Regions from separate parts of the Homo sapiens genome. Here all the other regions are linked to region 1. Evidence: fine-mapped expression QTL. A gene starts in region 1. Each other region holds a variant in brackets. All regions are shown on one strand. Distances are from middle to middle. Region 1 holds the start of LINC00926 (long intergenic non-protein coding RNA 926). Region 2 overlaps TCF12 (transcription factor 12). Region 3 has its middle 25 kb from the start of CGNL1.

Region 1 (9,392 bases):
TTTCAAAACACTACGTTGTACACAATAAATACATACAACATTTTTTGTCAATTAAAAAAACGTTTAGGCCGAGCACCCCAGCATTTTGGGAGGCTGAGGCAGAAGAATCACTTGAGGTCAGGAGTTCGAGACCAGCGTGGCCAACCTGGTGAAACCCTGTCTCTAATAAAAAATACAAAAATTAGCTGGGTATAGCAGCGTGCACCTGTAATGCCAGCTACTTGGGAGGCTGAGACATGAGAATCACCTGGACTCCAGAGGCAGAGGTTGCAGTGAACCTGGTCCACAGAGCAAGACTGCACTCCAGCCTGGCCTACAGAGTGAGACTCAGTCTCAAAAAATAAAAAACAACAACAAAAAAAAAACTTTTAAATCTATTTGATACAACATAGGCTGGGACTTCCAAAATTTTAAAAACCATCCTAAGTTCCTTCAGTCCTAGAGTTCTTTTTCAGTTATCACTGTTTTTGGTTCTCTGGCTTCTTGATAGTCTCCTTGGAAGAAAAACAACTGCATCTTTCCCTCTAAAGGCAAGGGCCATCTCTATATCTCTGAAGATCTAACCTTCTGCCACAGTTCGAATATGTTGGAAACGTAATCCCCCATGCAACAGTGTTGAGGGGGGTTGCCTAATAAGAGGTCATGAGGGCTCTCCTCCCAGGCTGTTTTGCCCTGCCGCCTTCCACCACGGATGATGTAGCACAAGGGCCCTCAACAGATGCCAGCCCCTCCGTCTTGCACTTTCCAGCCTCTAGAATTATAAGAAATAAATTTCTGTTATTCTTTTTTAATTACTCAGTCTCAGGTATTCTGTCATAGCATCAGAATACACACTAAGATACCTGCCTAGGCCATGAGGACCCCAAGACACAGCACAAATTTTGTACAAACTCTAACCAGACCACCTTTTTCCTACTCCCAGGGTGAGGTCCTTCCTTCCCCTGTCCCTTGCAGCCCTATGGGCTTTTTTGCTTTCTCTCATTCTCCGGGCCTTCTGCAGCTCTATTTCCTGCAAGATTGCATCTTTTCTCCTGGATATTTGGTCGTCGCTGGGCTGAGGTGGCAGCCTAGTGTTGGGAGCAGGCTTCTGGCTGGCCTCTGATCAGTAAGCCAGAGGGGTCACCTTGTCCTGAAATACAACCCAGCCATTGGCCATGTTTTCCACCATCTTATGAGTATTCCCAGTGACCAACCTCAGCAGTTCAAGACAAGTTGGGTTACACAACAAGGCAGCACAATAATGAAGCTCCCACCCCTGGCTTGGGCCTGGGCGTTAGAAAGCCCTGCCTGCGGGGGGCCCTCTCACATGCAGAAGGCAATGGGTAGTAGCTTCACCAGACGATCCTCTGCCTACCTGCTCCAGGTCTCCCCCTGGGGCCATCCCACCTCTTCCTCATTAAAGCCTGTGCTGAAAGGAGCGGGGTTGTTTTTCAAATTCTTTCAGCAGTGAGTTATTGATCAACACTGATAGTGCGAGCAGCTTGATCTCACCCTGAACTGGCAGAGATTAATTAGCTTGATTCCCAAGCATAATTCCTAATTAGGCACAGGAAGAAAGGAAAGAAAACACAAAGGAACTATTCTTCTCCAGGAACCACCGACCTTCTGTCCAGGGGTGGAGGAGGAAGAAACAGGTAAGCATGTCCCAGCACCAGAGTGCTTCCTGCCCATTCCAAAGCTGGGCAGCCAGCCCGTCAGCACAAACAACACCGAGGACGGTGCCAGTGCCATCCTGCAAGGGTTTCAGAAGAAAATGTGCATTTAATTTGTTTGCTTTACTCTCTGCCTAATGATGGGCAGGGAAGGCACAATTAAGCAGGAGGCTTTGAAGTACCTGCTCTAGGCTTGCTTAGCCACCAGAGGCTGAGGATGCAAGCAGGGGAGAGTTCAGCTCCAATAGGCTGGGGAAGAAAGGTTGGATGGGGAGGGTGTAGTGGCCCTGAGACTTGAGCAGAAATAGTGAAAGGAACCACTTCCTGCAGCTGAGAGGCAGGAGCCATCATGTTCTGTTGTGGGCATTTTCTAGAATGTTCCAGCCAGGACCAGCAGCTCAAATGGCTCTTCCCTGGTGGTGGGTAGGGCAATAGGAGATAGGAGGGACCTTCAATGTGGCAACTGTGAGGTTTGGCCAATCAACTTACCCATGCTGAGCTTCGGTTTCTCTTCAGTGAAATGGGGATAATTAATGATCGTATCAGCTTACATGACGGTTGTGAGAATTAACTGAAGAATTCAGAGATGCATGGCACATAGGAGGCACTTCCTAACCCACCTAAAGAAAGCAAACCCACAGGGCAGCAAATCAGAAATGGATGAGGGCTGACCTCCTCTTTATTCAGTAGCACATGTCTAATAGACCCGACTGTGTCTCGCACATGCTGCCCCTGAGGAAGACTTATTATAGGGAGCTACAAACAGTGTCACCTGGGAAAGACAGTGAACTCAGTTATAGAACAAGAACACCTGCCCGGGCTGACTGGGGGCCAGGATGCAGGGAAGGCTGCCTGGAGGAAGTGACATACCCCTGAGTCTCAATTGGCCAGGGAAACAACTGAGCAATGATTTGTGAAAATGAGTTCAGTAGAGGTTAATAAAAATTGGGAGTCCTGGCCAGTGGCTCACGCCTGTAATCCCAGCACTTCGGGAGCCCAAGGCAGGCGGATCACAAGGTCAGGAGTTCGAGACCAGCCTGATCAACATGATGAAACCCTGTCTCTACTAAAAATACAAAAATTAGCCAGGCATGGTGGTGCCTGCCTGTAATCCCAGCTACTCAGGAGGCTGAGGCAGGAGAATCGCTTGAACCCAGGAGGCGGAGGTTGCAGTGAGCTGAGATCATGCCGCTGCACTCCAGCCTGGGCAACAGAGCAAGACTCCGTCTAAAAAAAAAAAAAAAAAGGGAATCCCTGCTGTCTGCAGTAGGCCAATCAAGTGTCCAAGAATTGTGAGAATGTGCTTCCCCATCACCACCACCAGCCCACACCCACACCAAAATGTGTCACCCTTCAATCCCTTCAAGTCTGTCTGCTCAGCATCCTGATCCAAACAAGCCACTTTAAAAAGTGCAGTTATGAAACAATTCGAACACTGACTGGACTACTGTTTATATTTTTAGATGTGATACTGTGGTTATGTTTCTCTAAAAGTCCTTGTCTGTTAGAGATACACACTGAAGTGTTTACAGAGAGAATGATACAATCGCTGTCTGGAATCCGCTTCAATACCATCCATTGTTGGAGGGTGGGTAGTGGGGTTAGGGGGTTTTGAGGAAACAAGATTGGCCCGGTCTATCAGCATTGATGCTGGGTGAGATAGGTAAATGGGGGTTCATTATACACTTTACTTTTGAAAATGAAGTTTTTCGTAATAAAAAGTTGAAAGAAAGAAGGAAGGGAGATGGGAAGGCAGGGAAAGGAGAAAGGGAAGGAGAGAAGGAAAAGATTCTGCTCAAATGTCCCTTTGGAAACCTTCCTTGACCCCCGCGTTGGTGTGGGGCCGGGGGAATGGGGAGGCTGTTTTCTGCTCAGCCAGAGCAACAAGGCCCATGAGGAGACAGGAGGGATGTCTGGGGAGCAGTCCCAAGCCACAGAGTCCTTCTGGGGACCAGCCACACCATGAAGAGAGAGCAGAACAGGGAGCATAGCACAGACCTATGACATAGCACTGTGCCATGACATCAGCTGGCAAAGGCCCATGGGACCAGGAGGGAGGCATTAGAAGGGCGAACACTAGCAGCTGTTGAGTAGGAAGAAATGTGAGCCGACTTCTCTACCTAAGGAAGCGGTGGCAAGGCCGTGGAGGTTCGGGATGGGGACGGGTTCCAGGATTAGAGTGCTTTTTTTTTTCTTTCTTTCTTTTGAAGGAGGAGAGGCTATGGGAGCCTCAGGTACCGAGCATCTGGTGTCTGGAGAGATGCAGCTACTCAAGGCAGTTTCTGATCTGGAACCAGGAAGTCTCTGTTTCCCCACCAGCCAGCAAACGTTCTGGACTTGGTGCTGGGCCTGCCACCACCAAAGGTGGAGATGCCCCACATACCTGCGTCAGGCATGACAGGTCACCCCTGAGTCCTTGGGTCTCCCCAAGGCTTCTCCAGGGCTTCCCAACAGGGCTGAGATTCAAGAAAACGCTCAAGGTCCACCCCACTGCTCCGACCCTCTCACCAGAAGAAAAGGGCTGTGTCCCAAGGGCAGCCTGCTTGGGAAAAGAATATGTGGGGTGACTTGTCCAGATCTGCCCAGGGAGGCTGGGAATGGAGAGAGAAAGGAATCTGCCCACCAGTTGGGGGAAAAGTGGATTTCGCAACAACCTTGATGATATTAAATGCTTGGGGGGCCTGGGAAGACCAAATGTTTAATATTTGGAGAAGAGGCTGTCTAAACAGAGTAATTAGGAGGCTCCTTTGTAGTGATATGAAAGAGATGAATTGGGTATATTTGACATCAAAGACAGGAGATCCAGTGGGGAATGAGACCCACGGCCGGGCGTGGGCAGCGCTGGAGGACAGGCTCTCCCAGTGTGCTGCGGGGGAGGGCAGCCCCTGCAGTGTGCGTGTTGAGTGCTGGGAAACCCCCAAGTAACACTTCCCCCCTCATTTAACACACTTCCTAAAACCTCTCCTCCCCAAAAGCCACTTTGCAAAAGCAGCGATTACCACCAACCACGAGAAACACAGGAGCCTGCCTTCCACTGTTTACCACTGGGCAGGAAGTCGTTTATGGACCAGTCTCTTGCCCAGGCTAAACTCAGAAGTGGACACTGAGGGCCGGTTGTGGGTGCCACCAGGCAAGCTAGGGCATCGGAGTTCAGCAGAGCTGGGTGGGAATTCTGCTTCTCCCTCCACTACCTGGGTAACCCTGGGCAAGTCACTTAGCCTCTCCGAGCATAAACTGGTTTGCTTGTAATATGCAAATAATAAGGGGTGGGGGAAATTTTTTTTTTTTTTTTTGAGACAGAGTCTCGCTCTGTCACCCAGGCTGGAGTGCAGTGGCGTGATCTCGGCTCATTGCAACCTCCGCCTCCTGGGTTCAAGCAATTCTCCTGCCTCAGCCTCCTGAGTAGCTGGGATTACAGGCGCCCGCCACCACTCCCAGCTAATTTTTGTATTTTTAGTAGGGACGAGGTTTCACCATGTTGGTCAGGCTGGTCTCAAACTCCTGACCTCGTGATCTGCCCTCCTTGGCCTTCCAAAGTGCTGGGATTACAGGCGTGATGGAGATGATACTCCCTAAATCACAAGGGTGTGGTGTGAAGATGAAATGGCTGCACGTGACAGAGGAGTTGGAGAACAGGAAGCAAGTGGATTACTTGGATGAACTGTGATGGGCCCAAGAAGAACTAAGCCAATCACTCCAGGGGGCGTTTTCCCAGGATCCAGGCAGAGAGCTGATTCCAGCATCCACGTTGTATCCCCCTCCCGCTGTGGCCGGGGTCTCCAAGAGCCGGGCACCCACTGCAGAGCTTCCAAGCCCAGGCCCATTTGAACACAGGAGGACTTTTGAGGTTCATTTAACCCCAAAATCAGTGATTCTACATCTCAAGCTCATATTTTGAAGTGTTTACGGGTAAGTCATATGATACTGGTCATTTATTTTTTAAATATTCTAGCCAAAAGTACATGGTAGACAAAGTGAGAATGTCAGAATGTTGATAATTAGTGAAACTAGACGAAGATACATGAAAGTTTAATTTTGATTCTCACCTACTTTCATGTGCATTAGGAAACTTTCATAATAAGTTAAAGTAACAAAATAGGCCAGACTCGGCTGCTCATGCCTGCAATCCCAGCACTTTGGGCGGCTAAGGCAGGCGGATTACTTGAGGTCACGAGTTTGAAACCAGCCTGGCCAACGTGGTGAAACCCCATCTCCCCTAGAAAATAAAACAAAAAAAAAAATTGTAGCTGGGCATGGTGGCAGGCCCCTGTAATCCCACCTACTCAGGAGGGTGAGGGAGGAGAATCGCTTGAGCCTCAGAGGCAGAGGTTGCAGTGAGCCAAGATTGCGCCATTGCACTCCAGCCTGGGTGAGAGAGCGAGACTCCATCTCTGAATAAATAAAGTAACAAAATACATTTCAGTCTCGAGCTCCAGTTCCCTGCCAGGAAGAGCTGAAGCTGAGCTCTGGCACCCCCTGCTTCTTCTCCCTCATCCCTAAAACATGTGGGGTACTGGGTGCCAAAGGAGATCTGAAGATGGCCACCACTCAGACCAGCAGTAGAGGCCAAGAAGGTGGTGAGAAATTTTAAGGTATTGTAGCATATGCTCTCCAGGGTGAGGACACAGGATGCTGGGACCTAAGGAGGGAGAAGTTAACCCAGAGAGGGCCCAAGTCAGGGAGGACCTGACTGTGGTGACAGAGCCAGTCATGCTAATAATAGGAGCAGTGGTTTTGCAATCACAAATATTGGTCTGGGGGACTGCGGGCCCAATGTGGTGGGAGTTTTAGAGCAGGGACCCCTCCACTGTACGTGGATTCTTATACTTGCTAAGTTGCACTGAATTCTCAATCAACCCATTTGGAGGCTCTCACCAAGACAGGAGTCCCTTTGAATTGGTAGGATGTTAAAAGCTTCCTCCAGCCATTGACCCTGGGTCCCATTGGTAGAAATCAGATAATAAATCAGATTTTCCAGGTAATCCTCAGTTTAATGTCCATTCCCTCATTCAATCAATTATTCAATTACAAATCATTTTTAATATGATTTTATGGTTCAGGAATTCAGGCAGGGCTCAGATGGGCAGTTCTTCTGCCCCACATGGCATTGGCTGATAACAGGCTACCCCAAGGAAATCACAGTGTAATGGGAGATGGGAAATAGGTTAACACAAAGTTACTATACTACAAGAAAAATCTTCAAATCTTCAATCTTCATTCTTCATGGGTGTGAGTCTTCTCTGGTGGAGAAGAGAGTTCTTTGCTAAATTATATTCCTGTGTTAGCCAGCCAAGCACACACGGAGTACAGCTGTCCCTTGCTATTCATGGCAGATTGATCCCAGACACTGCCACCCCCAGCCCTGTGAACACCAAAACCCATGGATGCTCAAGTCCTTGATATAAAATGGTATGGTATTTGCACATAACCTACACACATCTTCCCATATACTTTAAATCATCACTAGATTACTTATAATACCTAATGCAATGTAAATGCTATGTAAGTAGTTGCTACGCTGTATTGCTTAGGGAATAATGACAAGAAAAAAAGGCTGTACAACTTCAGTACAAATGCTATCATTCATTTTTTTATCTGAATATTATGATCCATGAATACAGAGGGCTGGCTGTAAAAAGAATGTACAGTTTGGTACTTTACTCCTAGTTTAAGTCATCTCTTTCGGCCCATACAGGTTGCCTGGGGCAGGGCGGTGGTGAGTGTGTTGAGTCGGCCCTATACCCTGTTCCACAATGCCTGGTGTCCTTGGCACGTAGCTTGCAGGGCTGCTTCCATGGATGGCTGCCTCATCCCCCACCCCTCCTTCATGGCACCCTCTTTTCTCCAACTCCTTTTCCTCTGCTGAGTCCTACCTTTTCTTGCCAGACCAGGGATTTGCCAATTATTCTGGATGGGCACAGGGAAGGGGCCCTCAGATCCTGCAGAGGGAGCATCTGAAAGACAATGAGACCCTGTACACAACCAAGCTGAGCCTCCTGTAAGCACATCCTCTGGGTGTCACTATGCGAAAAGACTCTTTGTCTGTTTACATTGCACAACGAATTGTCCCTCTGATTGTCCTAGCGTTGGTGCATGCATGGATCCAGGAAGAGCAGGTATTTGGACCCAACGAGACAGGTTCATCTTGGCAGTTTGTCTCCTGTGGTTGCTTTGTGCCTGCCCCGTATCTATCCACCCAACTTCTGGCAGCAATCCCTCCAGGACCCACCTCTGTCTTCATGGTTTGTGTGTTCTGATCCTGCTCCTTGGCCCCAGAATACACCCTCCACATCTAAGCTATGCAGTGCCTCATCCCCACAGCTGCAGCGATTGGTTTAGGAATGGGAAAATAATCCAATCAAAGTAAGATTGTCTAATATCTGATCCCGCTTACCCCGGAGCCAGAAGTCCCACCTTTCCAGGCTCCTCCATGTTCCTTTCTGGAGCAATGAGGAGGAAGGTTCATTCCCTTCTCAGGGAACTTGCTGCGGTGTCCCAGTCCTGACTGTCCCCTCTCTACCCCTGCCTGTGGCTCTCCCGTCTCCTGGCATTCTAACCTGCCACTGAATTCTTCCCACGCCAAACGCAGGTTAGGAACCTAAGCTCGGATGAAATGCTGGCTTAGACCTCATTGCTACTGAGAAGCAGAAACCACACTTTTTAGTTGGTAGAGGTGGATGTGGATTGGGGCCATAAAGTTTCCTCAATCATTGAATAAGGATTTCATTATTTGGACTAACTAAATACATTAGATTATTTATACTAACTAAATAAATTAGATTTATTTTTCGAAGTTTAAAATCATTTTCAATAGTGACGAAAAAGGCTGTAGATGAGATGGGAGAATCTTTCGACGCCAAATTCTTCCCATCTCCTGCCTAGTATGTATCACTACACCTTGCCCAGAGAGACTGTAGGGGTGCTCAGCAAAAACCATGGCTGGTTGATTCCCTGGAAAAAGGGGTGCTGTCCCAGGGAGCTCTGTGCCCTTCCTGCCAACACTGGGGTCTAGAGGAGGCAAGTTCCCCTCTGAAGGTGAGTATGATTCACTCATTAAAACTAAGAAATTTACATTGGTATGTTACTGTTAACTAACCTACAGACTTTTTTTAGATTTCACCGTTCTTTACACTCTCGTCCTTTCCAATTTCCGGGATCCAATGCAGGATACCAGGTTGCATTTTTGGATGTGTCCAGTCTGTGATCATTTCTCAATCTTTCCTCATTTTCTCATGACTTTTGACATTTATTTATTTATTTATTGTGTGAGACTGAGTCTCACTCTGTTGCCTAGGCTGGAGTGCAGTGGCCCCATCCTGGCTCACTACAATCTCCACCTCCCGGGTTCAAATGATTCTCCTGCCTCAGCCTCCCAAGCAGCTGGGATTACAGGCGCACACCACCACGCCTGGCTAATTTGTATTTTTAGTAGAGATGGGGTTTCACCATGTTAGCCAGGCTGGTCTCAAACTCCTGACTTCAGGTGATCTGCCTGCCTCGGCCTCCCAAAGTGCTAGGATTACAGGCGCAGGCCACCACGCCCAGCCTGACTTCTGACATTAGAGTACAGGGAGGGATTCTGTAGAATGTCCCTCAATTTGGGTGTGTCTGGTGTTTTGCCATGAGACTGGGGTTATGCTTCTGGGTGCCACACAGAGGTGAAATGTCCTTCTCATCACATTATTCGAGAGGTACATGGTACCAATGGGACTTATCGCTGCTGATGTTAACCTTGATCTC
Region 2 (8,000 bases), 33 kb before region 1:
CCAGGAAGATGTTAAGCTTATGTCCTTTACCTCTGCAACATCTTAGAAGTTAGTTTCTAAAATACATAGTTTCTCATCCTTGTTCATTTGTTAAATAGTGCCTGAAAGTGAGCATTAAATTGGTCATGGGGGTCAGACTTGTTCTTCTAAATACAAATGCTGTTAAAAAGCACAAGGATGTGGATATATTCTTTTCAGCTCTAAATAGTATACTTTCCTACATCTTCAAACCTCCATCATAACCCTGTAACTGCTAAGGATATTCACCAGCTAGAAAGCTTTTTATTGTCTTAGCTGTAATTCATATATGAGTCTCGTCTTTTATTTTATCTTTCCTTTGCCTCTTTGTTAGGTGGCTTGCAAAGTCAGTCTGGAACTGTTGTTACAACAGAAATCAAGACTGAAAACAAAGAAAAGGATGAAAACCTTCATGAACCTCCTTCATCAGATGACATGAAGTCAGATGATGAATCCTCCCAAAAAGATATCAAGGTTTCATCTAGAGGCAGAACAAGGTATTTGTTAGCATCCAGGTTTTAAATTTTATTCATTTTCCATAGGTAAACATACTTGAGAAGCTGGGTGTCATGCATTTATTAACTGTCAGCTATGTTCTAGATATTGTGTTAGGATTTTTGTGTATGTTGTCTCATTTAATCACCACATCATCTCTATAAAAGAGAAGTATATGAAGGTTTGATTTCAAAATTATGTTTTCCTTCATACTATACCATTTGAGGGACTATATATAAAATATAATTATATCTCTTCACTCAAGTTGCTTAGTCTGTTAGATAAGTAGAAGGTAAAATAGCTAAAAGAAGTTAAATCATGTGGTACGGACATTTAGATAGATTTGATCAATAAATATTTGAATATGGTCAGGTGTCACTTAACAATGGTATATATTCTAAGAAATGCATTGCTAGGCAATTTCATCATTGTGCAAACATACAGTATACTTTCACAAACCTAGCCTGTTGTTCCTAGGCTGTATACCTGTATACCATGTTACTGAACTGAGTGCTGTAGGCAATTGTAACACAATGGTAAGAATTTGTGTATCTAAACACCTAAAAGGCACAGTAAAAATAAAAGATAAAAAATGGTACCCGTATAGGCCACTTATCATGAATAGAGCTTGCAGGACTCGAAATTGCTCTGGGTGATTCAATGAGCAGGTGGTGAGTGAATGTGAAGGCCTAGGACATTTCTGTACACTATTGTAGACTTTACAGACACTGTACATTTAGGCTATATTTCATTTATTAAAAAATATTTTTCTTCAATAGTAAATTAACCTTAGCTTACTGTATGTCATTTACTTTATAAACTTAAATTATTTTTAACTTTCTGACTCTTGTAATAATAGCTTAAAACACAAACACATTATATAGCTATACAAAAATATATTTTCTTTAAGTTCTTTTGTAAGCTTTTTTTTTTTTTTTTTTTTTTTGAGGTGGAGTCTTACTCTCTCGCCCAGGCTGGAATGCAGTGGCATCATCTCGGCTCACTGCAACCTCCGCCTCCCAGGTTCAAGTGATTCTCCTGCCTCAGCCTCCCAAGTAGCTGGGATTACAGGCACCCCCCACCACTCCAGGCTAATTTTTGTAGTTTTAGTGGAGACGGGGTTTCACCATGTTGGCCAGGCAGGTCTGGAACTCCTGACCTCAAGTGATCTGCCCACCTCATCCTCCCAAAATGCTGGGATTACAGGCATGAGCCACCGCACCCGGCCTTTGTAAGCTTTTTCCTATTTTTAAAATTTTGTGGTTTTTTGTTTGTTTGTTTACTTTTCAAACTTTTTTGTTAAAAACTAAGACACAAACACACATGTTAGCCTAGGCCTACACAAGGTCAAGATCATTAATATCACTGTCTTCCACCTCCACATCTTGTCCCACTGAATGTCTTCACAGGCAGTAACATGCAGGAAGCTGTCTCTCCTAAGGTAACAAAGCCTTCTTCTGGAATACCTCCTAAAGGACCTGCCTTGAGGTCTTGTCGCCCAGGCTGGGGTGCAGTGGCACAATCTTGGCTCATTGCAACCTCTGCCTCCCGGGTTCAAGCAGTTCTCTTGCCTCAGCCTCCAGAGTAGCTGGGACTACAGGTGCCTGCCACCATGCCCGGCGAATTTTTGTATTGTTAGTAGAGATGGGATTTCGCCATGTTGGCCAGGCTGGTCTCGAACTCCTGACCTCCAGTGATCTGCCCACCTCGGCCTTCCAAAGTGCTGGGATTACAAGCGTGAGCCACCACACCCGGCCAACTTTTTTTTTTAAGTTAGAAGTATACTCTAATGATAAATAGTATAGTATAGTATAGTATAGTATAGTATAGTATAGTATAGTATAGTATAGTATAGTATAGTATAAATACATAAACCAATAACATAATTAGTTATTATTATTATCAAGTACAGCAGGTCCTCAAAGAACATCATTTTGTGAAATGATGAGAAAAAAAATTGATTCCTAGCTAGAGCCTCTTTGTTTGTGGAGTTTGCACATTCTTCCCATGTCTCCTCATGTGGGTTTTCTCTAAGTACTCCGGTTTCTTCCTTCACCCCAAAAATGTGCGTATTAGGTTGAGTAATGTGTCTGAATTGTCCCAGTATGAGAGAGTGTGGGTGTATGTGTGAGTGTGCCCTGCAATGAAATGGCATCCCGTCCAGGATTGTTTCTACCTTGCTCCCTGAGCTGCTGGGATAGGCTGCAGCCTCCCCCGACCCTGAACTGGAATAATTGGGTAAATAATAATCTTACTTATTTTTATGAGTCTTTCTTAAATGTATGCATAGTTCACATTTATTTCATTGTTTAATATTAGAAGTGTATTTTGGTTTTTATTTAGAAGTTTGATGATATTTTGTCACCAGAAATGTACTGTAGGGACTTAACTCTTATTTATATCAATTAACCTATGATAAAACTGGTTTTATTATGTGTCATTTTCCTTAAAGTTGCAGTTTCCAAGAACTGATCAATGACATTGAGGACTTACTGTAGTGTGTACTGTACTTAATTGCATGCTTTTATACAACTGGCAGCACAGTAGGTTTGTTTATAACAAACAAAGAGTTAACGTGACTAATGTGTTGTGCTGCAGCCTTACCACAGCTACATTACTATATAATAGACATTTTTTAGCTCCAGTATAATAAGACCACTGTCATGTATGTAGTCCCTCATTGACTGAAATGTTATGGGCTCATAACTGTATATTAATATAAGGGCTAAATATATGGTAAGACTCTGATTTAAACAAGCAAATTATGGCCCATGGGCCTACCCAGCTCACTGCCTATTTTTGTTTTTGTTTTT[ATTATTTATTTAT/A]TTATTTATTTATTTATTTATTTATTTATTTAAAGACAGGGTCTCGCTGTCACCCAGGCTGGAATGCCATGGGGTGATCTTGGCTCACTGCAGCCTCAGCCTCCCAAGTAGCTGGGATTACAGGCAGATGCCACCATGCCTGGCTAATTTTTGTATTTTTAATAGAGACAAGGTTTCACCATGTTTTCCAGGCTGGTTTTAAACTCCTGGCCTCAAGTGATCTGCTCACCTCATCCTCCCAAAGTGCTGGGATTACAGGCGTGAGCCACTGCGCCTGGCTGCTGCCTATTTTTATGTTTTATTAGAACATCACCATGCCACATTCATTTATCCATTGTCTGTGGTTGTTTTCATACTGCATTGCCAGACTAGAATAGTTGCCACAGAGACTATATGGCCCATCAGAGCTGAAAATATTTACCATCTGGTCCTTCAGAAAAAATGTTTCTTTTTAACAAACAATTAAATAGTAATTTGAGAAAAGTATGAAAAAGGAAATATTCTAGGCAGAATGATGTTGTCGTGGAGTTTTCTAGAAAATGGACTTGACTTTGCTTTGAAGTATGAATATAGACACATAGTACATTAGTTTCAAGTGATTTCTGGATTTTTCCTTCAAATTTTTCTTCCAGTTCTACATTAAAATTAGATGAGTTAGGCCAGGCACAGTGGCTCATGCCTGTAATCCCAGCACTTTGGGTGGCTAAGGCAGGAGGATCTCTTGAGGCCAGAAGTTCAAGACCAGCCTGGGCTACATAGCTAGATTCTGTCTCTACAAAAAATTAGCGGGGCATGGTGGCAAACACCCGTAGTCCCAGCTACTTGGGAGGGTAAGGCAGGAAGATTGCTTGAGTTCAGAAGTTTGAGGCTATAGTGAGCCATGATCATGCCACTGCATTCTAGCCTGGCTAACAGAGAGATGCTGTCTCTAAAAAAAGACTTTTTTCTAATGAAAATTTAAAAGTTAGATCATTTAGTATATTTGTGGTACACCCTATTTCTTGGCATACATATTCATTTATCAATGATATGTGTATATATCTTATACAGATTTAAAACATTGTTCTTTGTGTTGAATTATGGTGCAATGAGGATGGTAGATAAAACTAAAAGAAGCAGAATGTTCCTTTCTGTCATTCACAACTTAAAAGGTGTCCTTTTGCTCTTTTGACATTCTCACTGTTTTCAACACCTAAACATTTATCTTGGGAAAAAGGAAATCTTAAGATCTTAATATTATTACTTTAATATGTATTGTACTCAACTATCAGGGGCATAAGGAAGGAAAAAACTGTGTCAAGGAATTCAGAGACCACTCTTTGGAGGCATCTTAACTCTTACATAGTTTTTATTCAAATAGAATTTTAAGGGAAACAATTTACATCTTTCCTCCATATTCATCTTCTTATAGATCAGGAATCAGCAAACTTTCTCTGTAAAGTCCCAAATAGTGACTATTATTAGGCTTTACTGGACATACAGTCTCTGTCACAGCTACTTACCACTGCCATTAGAGGACAAAAGTAGCCAAAGTCAAATGGGTATCGCTGTTCCAATAAAATTTTACTTACAAAAAAGGATGACCAGCTCATAGATCAGTTTGCTGACCCATATTATAGGTCATCAGAAATTAGGAGGCAGTGTAATAGGTTAGTAATAGTCCATAATAATGAATAGGTTAATAACATGACCTTTGGACAAAATAAGGGTTTGAATTGTGGTTCCATTACATACTTGCCGAGTGACTTTGGGCAAGTCTTTGAGCTCAGTTTCTTCTTCTCTAAAAGGAGACTTTCTGTTACAGGATTCTTGTAGGAATAACCTGAAAATGATGCATGTAAAACCCTTTGCACACGGTCTAGCACACAGTAAGCACTCAATAAAGATACTATATCTACTGTTACAGTGGTAGTGTTATGGTGGTAATTTTAAGTGTATGGTGTAGGCTTGCTTCCATGGAGCACTGAGCTGACATCTCATCATCATACTGCCACCAGTTAGCTCTGTGATCCTAGGTCTTGAAGTGGTTCTCAACCCTGCTGCCCAGACCCTGGAACATTTTAGAAATACAGGTGCCTGGGCCCCAACCCAAACTCACTAAATTAGTGAGTCTAGCATCTCTGGTAGTGAGACCTGGAAAGCTGTATTTTTCAAGTGCTCTTGGAGATTCTAATGAGTGGCTATCTGTGGACACCACTGGGCTCGATGATCTTTAAAGGACTTTTTGAAGTCAAAGAACCAGTGATTTTCTTTTGTCAAAAGAATGCATTTATATGATTCTTAATGATTAGCAGGTTAAATATTGCATACTTTTTAGGGACAGAGTCTCTGTTTGTCACCCAGGCTGGAGTGCAGTGGACAATAACCTCAAGCTGCTGGACTCAGGCAATTCTCCCATGCCCGCCTCAGCTTCCCAAACCACTTAGGTTACAAGCACGAGCCACCATGCCTGGCCTGTGTACTTGTTCTTTTATTAGAATACTCAGGGTATTAAAGAAGAGGTAAAAATGTCTAATATTTTTGTACATTATTTCAAGGTTCTGAGAAGCTGTGGTCAGTAATTTATATCTGAATCATAAATAGAACTTTCTATAAGCTGTTACAGAGCATCTCCCTCATATGTTTTTTTTTCTGATTATGTAGTCTATTTTCATTACAGAAATGTAGAAAATACAGAAAAGTATGCACAAAAATCACAAGAAACACCACTATTCAGAATTAACCACTGTTTACTTCTTTTTTTTTTTTCCTGAGAAGTTCTAATTTGATTTCACTGTGGTCTGAGAGACGTTTTGTTGTGATTTGTGTTATTTTACATTTGCTGAGGAGTGTTTTGCTTCCAATTATGTGGTCAATTTTAGAATAATAAGTGCAGTGTGGTGCTGAGAAGAGTGTATATTCTGTTGATTTGGGGTGGAGAGTTCTGTAGATGACTGTTAAGTCCGCTTGGTCCAGAGCTGAGTTCAAGTCCTGGATATCCTTGTTAATTTTCTGTCTCGTTGATCTGTCTAATATTGACAGTGGGGTGTTAAAGTCTCCCATTATTATTGTATGGGAGTCTAAGTCTTTTTGTAGGTCTGTAAGAACTTGCTTTATGAATCTGGGTGCTCGTGTATTGGGTGTGTATATATTTGGGATAGTTAGGTCTTCTTGTTGCATTGATCCCTTTACCATTATGTAATGGCCTTCTTTGTCTCTTTTGATCTTTGTTGGTTGAAAGTCTGTTTTATCAGAGACCAGGATTGCAACCGCACAACCCCTGCTTTTTTTTTTTTTTTTTTTTTTTTTTTTTTTGGCTTTCCATTTGTTTGGTAGATCTTCCTCCATCCCTTTATTTTGAGCCTATGTGTATCTTTGCGCATGAAGTGGGTCTCCTGAATACAGCACACTGATGGGTCTTCACTCTTTATCCAATTTGTCAGTCTCTGTCTTTTAATTGGGGCACTTAGCTCATTTACATTTAAGGTTAATATTGTTATGTGTGAAATTGATCCTGTCATTATGATGCTACTGGTTATTTCACCCATTAATTGATGCAGTTTCTTCATAGCATCGATGGTCTTTACAATTTGGCATGTTTTTGCAGTGGCTGGTACCGGTTGTTGCTTACCATGTTTAGCGCTTCCTTCATGAGCTCTTGTAAGGCAGGCCTAGTGGTGACGAAATCTCTCAGCATTTGCTTGTCTGTAAAGGATTTTATTTCTCCTTCATTTATGAAACTTAGTTTGGCTGGATATGAAATTCTGGGTTGAAAATTCTTTTCTTTAAGAATGTTGAAATATTGGCCCCGACTCTCTTCTGGCTTGTAGGGTTTCTGCAGAGAGATCCACTGTTAGTCTGATGGGCTCCCCTTTGTGGGTAATCCAACCTTTATTTCTGGCAGCCCTTAACATTTTTTCCTTCATTTCAACCTTGGTGAATCTGACAGTTATGTGTCTTGGAGTTGCTCATCTTGAGGAGTATCTTTGTGGTGTTCTCTGTATTTCCTGAATTTGAATGTTGACCTGCCTTGCTAGGTTGGGGAAGTTCTCCTGGATAATATCCTGAAGAGTGTTTTCTAACTTGGTTCCATTCTCCCCATCACTTTCAGGTACACCAATCAAATGTAGATTTGGTCTTTTAATGTAGTCCCATATTTCTTGGAGGCTTTGTTCATTTGTTTTCACTCTTTTTTCTCTAAGCTTGTCTTCTCGCATTATTTCATTAATTTGATCTTCAATCACTGATATCCTTTCCTCTGCTTGATCGCATCAGCTATTGAAGCTTGTGTATGCTTCACGAAGTTGTCGTATTGTGGTTTTCAGCTCCATCAGGTCATTTAAGGTCTTCTCTATGCTGGATATTCTATTTAGCCATTCGTCTAACCTTTTTCCAAGGTTTTTTACTTCCTCGCAGTGGGTTAGAACATGCTTCTTTAGCTTGGAGAACAGCTTTCTTATTACCGACCTCCTGAAGCCTACTTCTGTCAACTCATCAAACTCATTCTCCATCCAGTTTTGTTCCCTTGTTGATGAGGAGTTGTGTTCCTTTGGAGGAGAAGAGGCGTTCTGGCTTTTGGTATTTTCAGCCTTTCTGCTCTGGTTTCTCCCCAGCTTTGTGGTTTTATCTACCTTTGGTCTTTGATGTTGGTGACCTACGAATGGGATTTTGGTGTGGATGTCC
Region 3 (10,827 bases), 52 kb after region 1:
CTGTTCATGCTGGAAGGTTCTCCTTCCTTTTTTTTTTCTTTTGGAGATGGAGTCTCGCTCTGTCACCCAGGCTGGAGTGCAGTAGCGAGATCTCAGCTCACTGCAACCTCTGCCTCTCGGGTTCAAGCAATTCTCCTGCCTCAGCCTCCTGAGTAGCTGGGACTACAGGCGCCTGCCGCCACATCCGGCTAATTTTTTTGTATTTTTTGGTAGAGTTGGGGTTTCTCTGTGTTGCCCAGGCTCGTTTTGAACTCCTGAGCTCAGGCAATCCGCCCGCCTCAGCCTTCCAAAGTGCTAGGATTACAGGCGTGAGCCACCACGTCCGGCTGGTTCTCCCTCCTTCTACAGGCTCCTACTCTTCTCCCTGGCCACAGCTAACCGAACCAAGGGACCCCGATCAAGCAGAACCCCTCAAAGGTCTTTTGGGGCCTGGTGCGGAAACCCGTGCTTACTGCAGAATCTGGAATTGAGACATGGAGGCTGCACCATTGGCTGAGGGCGGCTGGTGCTGGGGGGCAAGGGCCAGGCCAAGTCACAGTCACTTGTCAGTCAGAATCTGGGGTGGGGGGCAGGGGCTGGGGGAAAACTGAGGAAGCTAGGCAGCAGAGGAAAGAGAGTGAGGGGGACAAACAAGGTAGAGAGAGACCCTGCTCCTGAGGACGGCCTGGTTTCCATCAGGTCCTCACTTGTGAGACCCCCTGGGCGACTTCACAGCAAACCTTCCCTTGTACCTGAGCTGCTGGAGAGGCCTCTGTTCCTGCCAGCGGAAACTCCAGGCCATGTCTCCTGGACTGACCTCGAGCTCCTCAAGGGCAGGGATTGTGCCTTACTCAGCTTTGATTCCCTGCAGCACCAACAGGGTAGGGACCGTGCTTGTATGAGTGTGTTTGTGTGTGTGTGTGTGTGAGTGTGAAAGTGTGTGTGAGAGGTGACAGTGTGTGTGTAAGTTTTCCCTCTCTAGTAGCAGGTGGAGGCCAGAGCTACCTGCCTTGAAAATACTGTGTATTTGAGCTATACTCTTGTGCGTGCGCAGCTTGAGCTTGGGTAGGCAATGATTCAAAAACCATGGGTACCACCAGGAGGACTGTAATCAAAATGACAACAATAACAAGTGTTGGCACAGATGTGGAGAAATCGGGACCCACTTACAGTGCTGGTAGGAATAGAAAATGGGGCAGCCGCTGTGGAATGCAGCCTGACACTTCCTCAAAACATTAAGCATAGAGCTGCCATATGAACCAGAAGTTCCACGCCAGGGGCTGTGCCCGAGAGAAATGATGACACACATCCACACAAGCACTTGTACACAAAAGTTCATAGCAGTGTTATTCACAGTAGCCAGAAGCAGAAACAACCCAAATGACCATTGCTGATGGATGGATAAACCAACTGTGGTCAATCCACACAATTGACTATTATTTGGCAATAAAAACAGATGAGGTACTGATTCATGCTACCACATCAGTGAATCTTGAAGACACTATACTAAATGAAAGGAGCCAGCCACGAAAGACCACAAATGATTCCTTTTATATGAAAATTTCAGAATAGGAAAATCTATAGAGACAGAAAGTAGATTAGTGGTTGCCAGGGCCTGGGAAGAGGGGAGGTTAAGGCATGATGCCAACAGAGTTTCTTTTGAGGGTGATGAAAATGTTCTGGAGTTAGATGGTAATGATGGTTGTACAACCTTGTGAATATACTTTGAAAACCACTGAACTGTATACTTTACAATGGTGAATTTTATAGTGTATGCATTACATTTTACCTTTAAACACAAAAAACCAAGGGCAGCTCCTATGAGTTAAGGATCTAGGCAGTAAGCAGCAACCACCACTAACATGGTAAACAGAGACACGGGAACATGCTGTGACTCTTGTTGAGGAACAGACCCACCTAGGGAGACTGGCCTAAAAAGTGAACCTGACTGTAGTCAGGCCCCTAGCTCCAGTACAAATGTACAGGAAGGACAGAGGCACAGCAATGGGCTAAATGACACCATGGGGATGCAGTCCAAACTGCAGGGAATTCCATTCTACAAACCACCCAGTTACTTTAACAGATTCCAAAGTAAAAGAAAACCAAAAAAACCAAGGGGAAAACCTATGGATTCAAAGAGACTTCAGAGATACACCAACCAATTGCTGTATGTGGACCTTCTTTGATCTGGAGTCCAATAATCCGTTAAAAAAATAATTTTGGCTTTTGACAAATTTGGAGATTTGAACACTAGCTGGATATTTGATAATACTGAAACATTATTGTTAATTTATTTTTATTGTGTTTTCTTTAAAAAAACCACAGTCCTTATCTTTTAGAATTACTGAAATAAAGAAAAAAATGATCTGATGCTTGGAATTGATTTCCAAATAATCATGATGAAGGGAAATGGGTGGAGAAATAGAAAAAAATGACATTTGCTGTAAGTAGACAATTGAAGCTGGGTCACAGGTATATGGATTTTTTGTATGTTCTATCTACTTTTGTATATGTTTGAAATTTTCCATAGCTCCATATTTACTTCTTATTGGAAAATAAACAAGAAGAGAAGAATTGGAAGAGAGAAATCATGGGCAAAGTAGTAGTCTGAGATGGGGTGTCAGGCCTAATGTCCATCAGCTATTGCCCCACAGGCCTGCATTGCTAATCTGCCATCTGCCTCACGGCACCCTCCCCAGCCATCCTGTTGGCCCCTCCCATGAGGGAGTGCTCTCCATGGCTGTGCCCTCTTGGGCCTGACCTCACAACTGTTTCTGGAGGCACAAATTTGTCTCCTGTGGCTCAAGACACGAAGAATGGATGATCACATATGGTCACCAAACTTTGTGGAACAGTGATTCCAAACTATGGTCCTTCCGACAGCAGAGCAACACAAGAAGCAAACAGCTGAGGTGTTTGAGAAAGGTCAGGGAAAAAAAGCCTTCTTTTTTTTTTTTTTTTTTTTTTTTTTGAGACAGAGTCTCGCTCTATTGGCAGGCTGGAGTGCAGTGGCGCGATCTTGGCTCACTATAACCTCTGCCTGCTGGATTCAAGCAATTCTTCTGCCTCAGCCTCCCTAGTAGCTGGGACTACAGGTGCACACCACCACGCCCAGCTAATTTTTGTATTTTTAGTAGAGATAGGGTTTCACCATGTTGGCCAGGATGGTCTCGATCTCCTGACCTTGTGATCTGCCCGCCTCGGCCTCCCAAAGTGCTGGGATTACAAGGGTGAGCCACTGCGCCTGGCCGAAAAAGCCTTCTTGACTGAGAGCATGCTGCGGGTTAGGGAAGGGAGAGGTTACCTCTGGATCAGAGGTTGGAGAAGAATATAATTAAAGGAGTTTAAACTGAACTGGAGTGACACATAAATCATGCGAAATATATGTGAATGTGTTTCTTAAGTAAAATTAAAAAGTCCTCCAGGGGGATGTGCTTCTCCCATGCTCAAAGCTGACAAATCTTGGAGATGCCTGGTGCCCCAACCAAAGGTCATTTCCCAGCCTTTCTCTGAGAACAGAGAACACATTTCTCACGGAAGCAACATTATAAGTGGTGGTTGGGTTCCCAAGATCCCCATCAAAAGTTTATTTGCCCAGTTTAAAGGCTGCGCATTTGCACCTGAAGTAGGTAGGGCCCTTGCAAAGGCTAGCAGTTGGATAACATTAAGTTACATGTCAAGCCAGTCAAGATATGTGCCCTGCAATCCTCAGGAGTTGCTTGTGGAATTCAGAGGAGGAAGGGAGCATCTTCCAGTTAGGTGGCTAGGGAAGCAGTGGGATTTGAGCTGGGCTTGGAGTGGTGGATACATTTCAGTGACAGTAACAACCCCTCTGTCCTTCTTACTCAACTTTGCTAAGAAAAATTCTGAACTTTACAAATTATCCTTGAATCAGGCCCAGTGAGTTATGCGGAAATGTTAGAGCAAGCCCAAACCAGCTGGGACAGACGTAAATGTGTTCTGGATGTGCTGACTTGATCATAAGGTCCTCAGGTCTTCAGGATCCTGTAAGATGACCATCACCACACCACACTTCAGATTCCAGGGCCTTGCCTCCCTAGCCTGACATCTCACCTCCACCTCTGTCAAAATTTCAGAATCAGGTTGGGTCTTATCTTTGTTCTTATTTTTGATGTCCCATATAAACCCTTCTTCAACTGATCTTTTCCACCAGGCCCATAACTTCTTTCTTTGTTTTTTTTTTTTTTTTTTTAGACGGAGTCTCGCTCTATCACCAGGATGGAGTGCAGTGGCACGATCTTGGCTCACTGCAACCTCCACCTTCCGGGTTCAAGCAATTCTCCTGCCTCAGCCTCCTGAGTAGCTGGGACTACAGGAACCAGCCACCACACCCAGCCAATTTTTTGTATTTTAGTAGATACAGGGTTTCACCATGTTGGCCAGGATGGTCTCAATATCTTGACCTCATGATCCACCCACCTTGGCCTCCCAAAGTGCTGGGATTACAGGCGTGAGCCACCGTGCCCAGCCTCTTTCTAAGCCAGCATCCAGAACACAGATACAAGACTCATTAGGTAGGTTCAAAAAACAGGTCTCCAATGGCTTCCTTATTTCAGGAAGCACTGAATTAATTATTTCCACTCAGGAAAAGACTATGTTGGAGTCCATTGCTGCTTCTCGATCCCAAGTGAACTCCAGGAAGAAGCAAATGAAAAGCAATCATAGGCCGGGTGCGGTGGCTCGTACCTGTAATCACAGCACTTTGGGAGGCCAAGGCAGATGGATCACCTGATGTCAGGAGTTCAAGACCAGCCTGGCCAACATGGAGAAATCCCATCTCTACTAAAAATACAAAAATTAGCCGGGTATGGTGGCAAGTGCCTGTAATTCCAGCTACTTGGGAGACTGAGGCGAGAGAATCACTTGAACCCGGGAGGCGGATGTTATAGTGAGCTGAGATCGTGCCACTGCACTCCAGCCTGGGAGACAAGAGTGAAACTCTGTCTCAATAAAAAAAAAAGAAAGAAAAGAAAGAAAATAAAAGCATCGATAGTGTATATAGATCAAAGGAGGAAGGGACATTTTCCTTAGAATAAAACTTTAATAACGAAAACAATAAACTCCCTCCTTTCCACTCGTAGAATAGTCAAGCACTCATTTCTCATTTGCTTCTCAGCCATCAGCTGTCCTAATCTGTTATCTATTACGCTGTGTAACGAAACTCGTCCCAATCTAGTAGCTGAAAGCAACAACCATTTATTATGGCACATGTCTACATGGTGGCTGGGTGGTTTTGGTGATTTGGGCCCAGGCTGGCTGAATCCAGGTGGGCTTGTTCAGTGGTCCCTGGCAGTTGGGTTGGGGGCTGGCCTGTCTAGCATGGCCTCAGGTAGGAAGAGTTGGCTCTGCTCCACAGACTGACCCGTGCCTGTTCTCTTCCTCTGGCAGGTTAGTCCAGGCTTGTTCTCTCAGTGGAGACAGGGGTCCTACGAGAAGAGCAGAAGCAGTAAAGGCCTCATGAGGCCTGGACTTAAAGGACACATTGCCAGTTCCGCTATATTCTGTTGGCCAAAGCAGGCCAGCCAAGATACAAGCGGGGGGAGAAAATATGCTCTACCTTTTAATGAGGCATTGCAAACTCACATTGCCAAGGGTGTGGATACAGAAGGTCACTAGTTGTGGCCATGAATGCCATCCATCTATCAGACCTGCCAACGTAGTTTTTCTTTTAGGGGCGGACTTAGTCCGATTTCAGACATTAGTAAAACTGATT[C/T]GGATTCCATTTCCAAATTCCTAATTCCAAGAGAACTGGAAAAGCAGAGCGTGCCAACCTCTTATAATCCTTCTTAATGTGACAAATGTTTCTACAGCGTCCACTGAGCCAGGCTCAGTAGGTCCCTGGGACATATATGAAACAACAGTTCTCCTGCCCTCCAGGTGCTCAGCACAGCAGGAGAATCCCGGCTGGGAACAGAGAGCAAAGCGACCACATAGCTCTAGTGGGAATCCTGGGGAAGTGGTATGTGGTCTTGAATAGTGACTTAGAGTTTTCCAGAAAGAGAAGGAAGGGGAGTTCATTCTAGAGGCCTGGAGGATGTAAAGATGGTTGTGTTTTCATGAAACCGAGCTGTGGACACAAAGGGCAAGGCCAAGGTTGCAAGGGGCCTTGCCCGACTCTCTGTGGAGAGAGGATTTTATTGTGAAGGGTCCACGAAGTCACCGCAGGGCTTCAGCTGGATGAGTGTGCTCTGCTTGGCCTGTTGGAAAGATTGCTGGGGCAGCAGGGAGGTGAAGAGGAAGCTAAAGATAGGGTGACCAGTTGGGAGACTATTTCCAGTCCAAATACATCCTCTTGGGTTTGAGTTTCTGTGACCGTCCTCCTGCTGGCTGGAACTGGGAGGTCCTCTGGGGTCTCTAAACGCTCTCAGTTGCTTGCCTAGAGTTATGCAAGCGGGCGTGGGGTCGGGGCAGGACCAGGAAGCTTTGCGCTTTCTGCTCTTGGCTGATTTCATAACAGGTTAGCTTTTAAACTTCTGGCTCATTCCAGACACTATGCCTCTGGCCCTGGGAGAGAACTTGGTCTCCCAGACCGCGCATAACATTTCCACTTTCCGGCAAACACAGTCTGTGCGTGATCAGGTGAGGCTGGCGCACACAAATCCTTGATGTCTAGACCGCCTTTCTCCAGCTGCTGTGTTTACTGCAGAAAGGTTCCATCCTGGGATGATCGCCTGGGGGGAGTTTTCTTCTTGCGACACCTAGTTCAGCTCTGCTGAGCTTTTGGATTCCCAGCCTTTCTCCCACCACAACCCGGTGGTCATGAAGTCTCACAGGAAGTGTGGTAGGCACAATAATGGTCCCCAAGGATGTCTAGGCCCCCATCCCTGCAACCTGTAAGTGTGTTGTTACACGGCCAAGGGGATTGAATTAACAGATGGAATGAAGGTTGCTAATCAGCTGACTTTAATACAGGGAAATGAGCCTGGATTATCCAGGTGGGGCCAATATCATCATCAAGGTCCTTAATAGTGGAAGAGGAGGCAGCAGAGGAGCGCAGAGTGTTGCTTTGTGAGAAGGACCCGCCCAGCGTTGCTGGCCTTTAAGATGGAGGAAGGGGGCCGTGTGGTAGGAGTGTGGGGGCCTCAGGAGGGAAGGAAATTGGCTCTCCCAGGAGCTTCCAGAAAGGAATGCACCCCTGCTGACACTTTGATTTTGGCCCCAGTGAGCCTCGTGTTGGACTCCTGGACTACGGAGCTGTAAGATAATAAATGTGTGCTGTTTTAAGCCAGTAGCTTTGTGGTAATTGGTTACAGCAGGCATGGGAAAGCAGTGCAGGGTGTGTGAGCTGAACCCTTGAAGACGGGGTTCTCCACTACGTCCCCAGTGTGGAGCACAAGCTGGCTCTATGCCCGGTGCTCGGAAGCATTTTCAGAATGAACAGGACTGACTGAGATGAAGCCGCAGACATCTGCTCTCTCCAGGCCCCTATCTGGCTGTGTGACCATAGGTGGGTCCCTTCACTTTCAGTGACTATGTTCCCATGTCTCTTAAGGCAGTTGATGACCTCAAGGGTGGGTGACTTTTGAAGTGACTCTCAGATGTGTTACCACTGGAGCCACCGCCAGATCTCCTGACTCTCCTCTCTCTGACTGGTCTCATTCTTAGTCTAATACCATCATTCTCCAATGCTAAGGTCATTAATTAGCACCCCAGGCCCTCACTGACTCTGCTCTCACCCTGTCTCTGGGGCTCCCTGCCTACAGGTTCACTGCGGAGGTCATGGTAGACGTTGCTGCCCAGAACCTCCAACCGTAGGAAACCTCTCCTCCTTATTCTCAGCCATGAAGTGTGGGAGCAAAACTGCTACACAGTTTTGCTCAGGGTCAGACGCTGGGACATCCCCAGGGCCTGTAATGCTGGTCTCACCAGAGCTTTGACTGTGAATGCTGCTTTTCCTCATAGCAGTGTGTGGCCCCTAAGGTCCCCTATTCAATGACCAGGGACAATCATCAAATCAATGCAAAGAGAAAATGAAGCCTTGTGTTTCTATCTAACGGGTGAGCTACACTGGAAGTATAAGAAGTACTTATGGGGAAATCTGCTTTCCTGACTCTTACTTCTGTTTCCAGAGGGTGATATAATGTGTGTAAATGCAGATTCAGCTTCGAGGAAACTTTCGTCTAATAATGAACTGAACCACATTATGGCATGCTATCTCCAAGGTATGATAGTATCTGTTATACTCATGGGGTCCAAATTTTCTTTAGCTTAGAGGTTATTCTACTTTAGAGCAGGAGTTCTCTATTTTGGCCACCCACTAAGAATCACTCGAGGGGAGTATTTAAAAATCCAAGCCAGGCTGCACTCTAGAGCCACAGAATCACTGGGCTGAAACAGTTCCCCAGGTGACGCTGATGTGCAGCGCGGGTTGAGAACCACTCCACTGCCTTAGCTAACACTGGCTACTCTTGCCTTTGCCTTTGCTATTTACAAAAACAATTATTTTTTAGTATCTAAAGGCCAACATCAATAAACCCTTACTTGTTATACTAGAAGATGCTCTGTCCTCATTGACCTGAGTCCCATCTTAGTGGGGCTTATTATAATGACCCAGGCACGTGAGTCTCATGCAAACCAGTGGGGCAGGCTCTTGGGAGCAGTGGCTTCTGCATTATGCCTGGAATGCAGGAATACATGGGGATCAGTCCGACTGACAAATGCAACTCACCCAAAGTGACTATGAATGACTGCAAGGGCATCTGGGTACAGCAGTGGGACTGTAGTTCAGGTCAGGGATCTGGTCTCTGGTGTTGGCCCTGGGCAGGGAGGGAGCTCTAACAGGAACCGAGGCACCCAGTGTGGTACCTGCAGTTTCCCTGACCCCCACTGCAATCCTTCACCCCCGGGCTCCCCTTGGTTTCCCTGCCTCACCCACAGTCATTGGCCTCAGCTGGTAAAGGGCAGCTTGAGCCAGTGCGTCCTCGGAGCGTTAGTCCCAGCCAGTTTTTGCTGACTCCTCTCCCTTCCCAGCTGCCATGGCAAGTGGGTGCCCAGTCCCACAGCAGCCTCTCTTTCCTAAGTAAAATCCCACGCCCCGTGGCTAACTGTTCACAACCTGAAGGAAGAAATGTTCTACTTTCAAAGGAAAAACAGCCCTCCTTCCATGTAGCTCGCCAGCTGCCCACCGCTAGCCAGGTGTCGCTTGCAATCCATGGACACCGTTCCCGTAGCAACCCCAGGTGACTGTCACAGCTGCCCCTGACACAAACTGCTTTAGCAAAGGGGTGTCAAAAAATATTTTAAAAACAAGTTTTAAACACAATTTTTAGGGAGAAATCAAGAGGGTTCTCAACTGAGGTAATTGACCGACTTGGTGGGGGTTCAGTCCATGAATGTAGCTTCACTCTTGTGGCTATTAATGGCAGGGAGGTGGGGGGACAGTTGGTATAAAGGCAATGAGACTACATATCAAGATGGAAGGGGGCATCCTAGGCTTGGCATGGTATTTGGAAACCTTGACTAGCCTTTTATGCCCAATGCTGTTTGGAAATCTTGCTGGGAATCACAGAAGCTATAGATGCTTAATGGTGTCAGCACTGATATGCGCCACCATCAGCTTGAATTACATATTAACCACCCATCTGCATTTAATCCCTATACCTGGCCATCTTCTGATGAGACGAGCTATTTCCTCTCTCTCCTCTCTTGTACTCTCCAGTGGATAAGTGAGTTTCTCTCCATGCCTTCTCTGGAGTGGGCTGTTTCGCCCACTGGAGGGGGATTCTCAAGGTCTCCACCACTCCTTGGAAAAATGGGGTGAGGACTCCAGGGCTGGGAAAGGGAAAGTGTAAGATGATCCTGAACCAGCTTATGGTGCCTGGAAGTAAGGAAATGCTAGAAAAATGGTGAGAACATGTCAGAAGATCACAGGAGCCAGCTTGAAAGGGCTCAAAACAGCCAAACCTAGGGAATCTGAGCAATAAGAGAAATAATAACAGTGGATTGTGACCTGTAGAGTACAATGGATGTATTCTGCTAAGTGAGAGAAGCCAGACCCCAAAGTCTACATACTCAAATCCACTTATATGACATTCTGGAAAAGGCAAAACTATAAGGACAAAAACCAGATCAGTGGTTGCCAAAAATAGGAGGTGTGGGGGGGTTGATTAAGCTGTATGAGGGATTTTGGGGGCTGATGCAGCTGTTCTGTTGCATGACTGTGGTGTAGATACATGACTCTACATTGTCAAAACTCATAGAACTGCAAACTACAGAGAGTGAATTTTACTGAATGTAAATTTTAAAAAATTAAGATGTTTGGGAGCCCCAAATGGAACCCAATTACAAATAAACCCAACCAGGCTGGGCATGGTGGCTCACACAGGTAATCCTAGCACTTTGGGAGGCCGAGGTGGGCAGATTGCCTGAGCCCAGGAGTTTGAGACCAGCCTGGGGAACATAGCAAAATCCCGTCTCTACAAAAAATACAAAATTAGCCAGGCATGGTGGCGCATGCCTGCAGTCCTAGCTACTCAGGGACTGAGGCGAGAGGATCACTTAAGCCTAGGAGATTGAGGCTGCAATGAGCTGAGATCATGCCACTACATTCCATACATTCCAGCCTCAATGACAGAGTGAGTCCCTGTCTCTTAGAAATAAAAAAAAACAAAAGAACCCAACCATAATACAGATGAATAACATAACCACACTGAAGGGGGTAGGGAAGAAAAGAACCAACCTGAGTACCCAGGGAAAATAGGGTTTTGACTTGATACACAAATACTGTATGGTTAATACACTTCTCATGGGCGGGGGGTGGAGGTTAGGAATTCTGCAACTACTTTCTGTGTATACTAAAGCTGAAAAAATAGGTACAGCTGACCCTTC

The links. PIP is the estimated chance that this variant, and not a neighbour inherited with it, causes the effect.
Region 2: its variant is fine-mapped to the expression of LINC00926 in monocytes after R848 (Quach 2016, PIP 0.95).
Region 3: its variant is fine-mapped to the expression of LINC00926 in putamen (GTEx, PIP 0.96).

Annotation. Positions count from the first base shown.
Region 1 is chr15:57,295,364-57,304,755 of GRCh38, forward strand. LINC00926 (long intergenic non-protein coding RNA 926) reads left to right here and starts at 5,002. Exons shown (of 3, transcript NR_024433.1): 1 at 5,002-5,561. RefSeq lists enhancers at 3,012-3,061, 3,544-3,663.
Region 2 is chr15:57,262,760-57,270,759 of GRCh38, forward strand. It overlaps TCF12 (transcription factor 12), which reads left to right. Exons shown (of 21, transcript NM_207037.2): 18 at 353-515. Among named protein-coding and RNA genes, the nearest start is that of SNORD13D, 12 kb to the right of the region's middle. The variant ATTATTTATTTAT/A (reference allele first, on the strand shown) is at 3,327.
Region 3 is chr15:57,346,300-57,357,126 of GRCh38, forward strand. No RefSeq gene overlaps it. Among named protein-coding and RNA genes, the nearest start is that of CGNL1, 25 kb to the right of the region's middle. RefSeq lists an enhancer at 9,192-9,913. The variant C/T (reference allele first, on the strand shown) is at 5,714.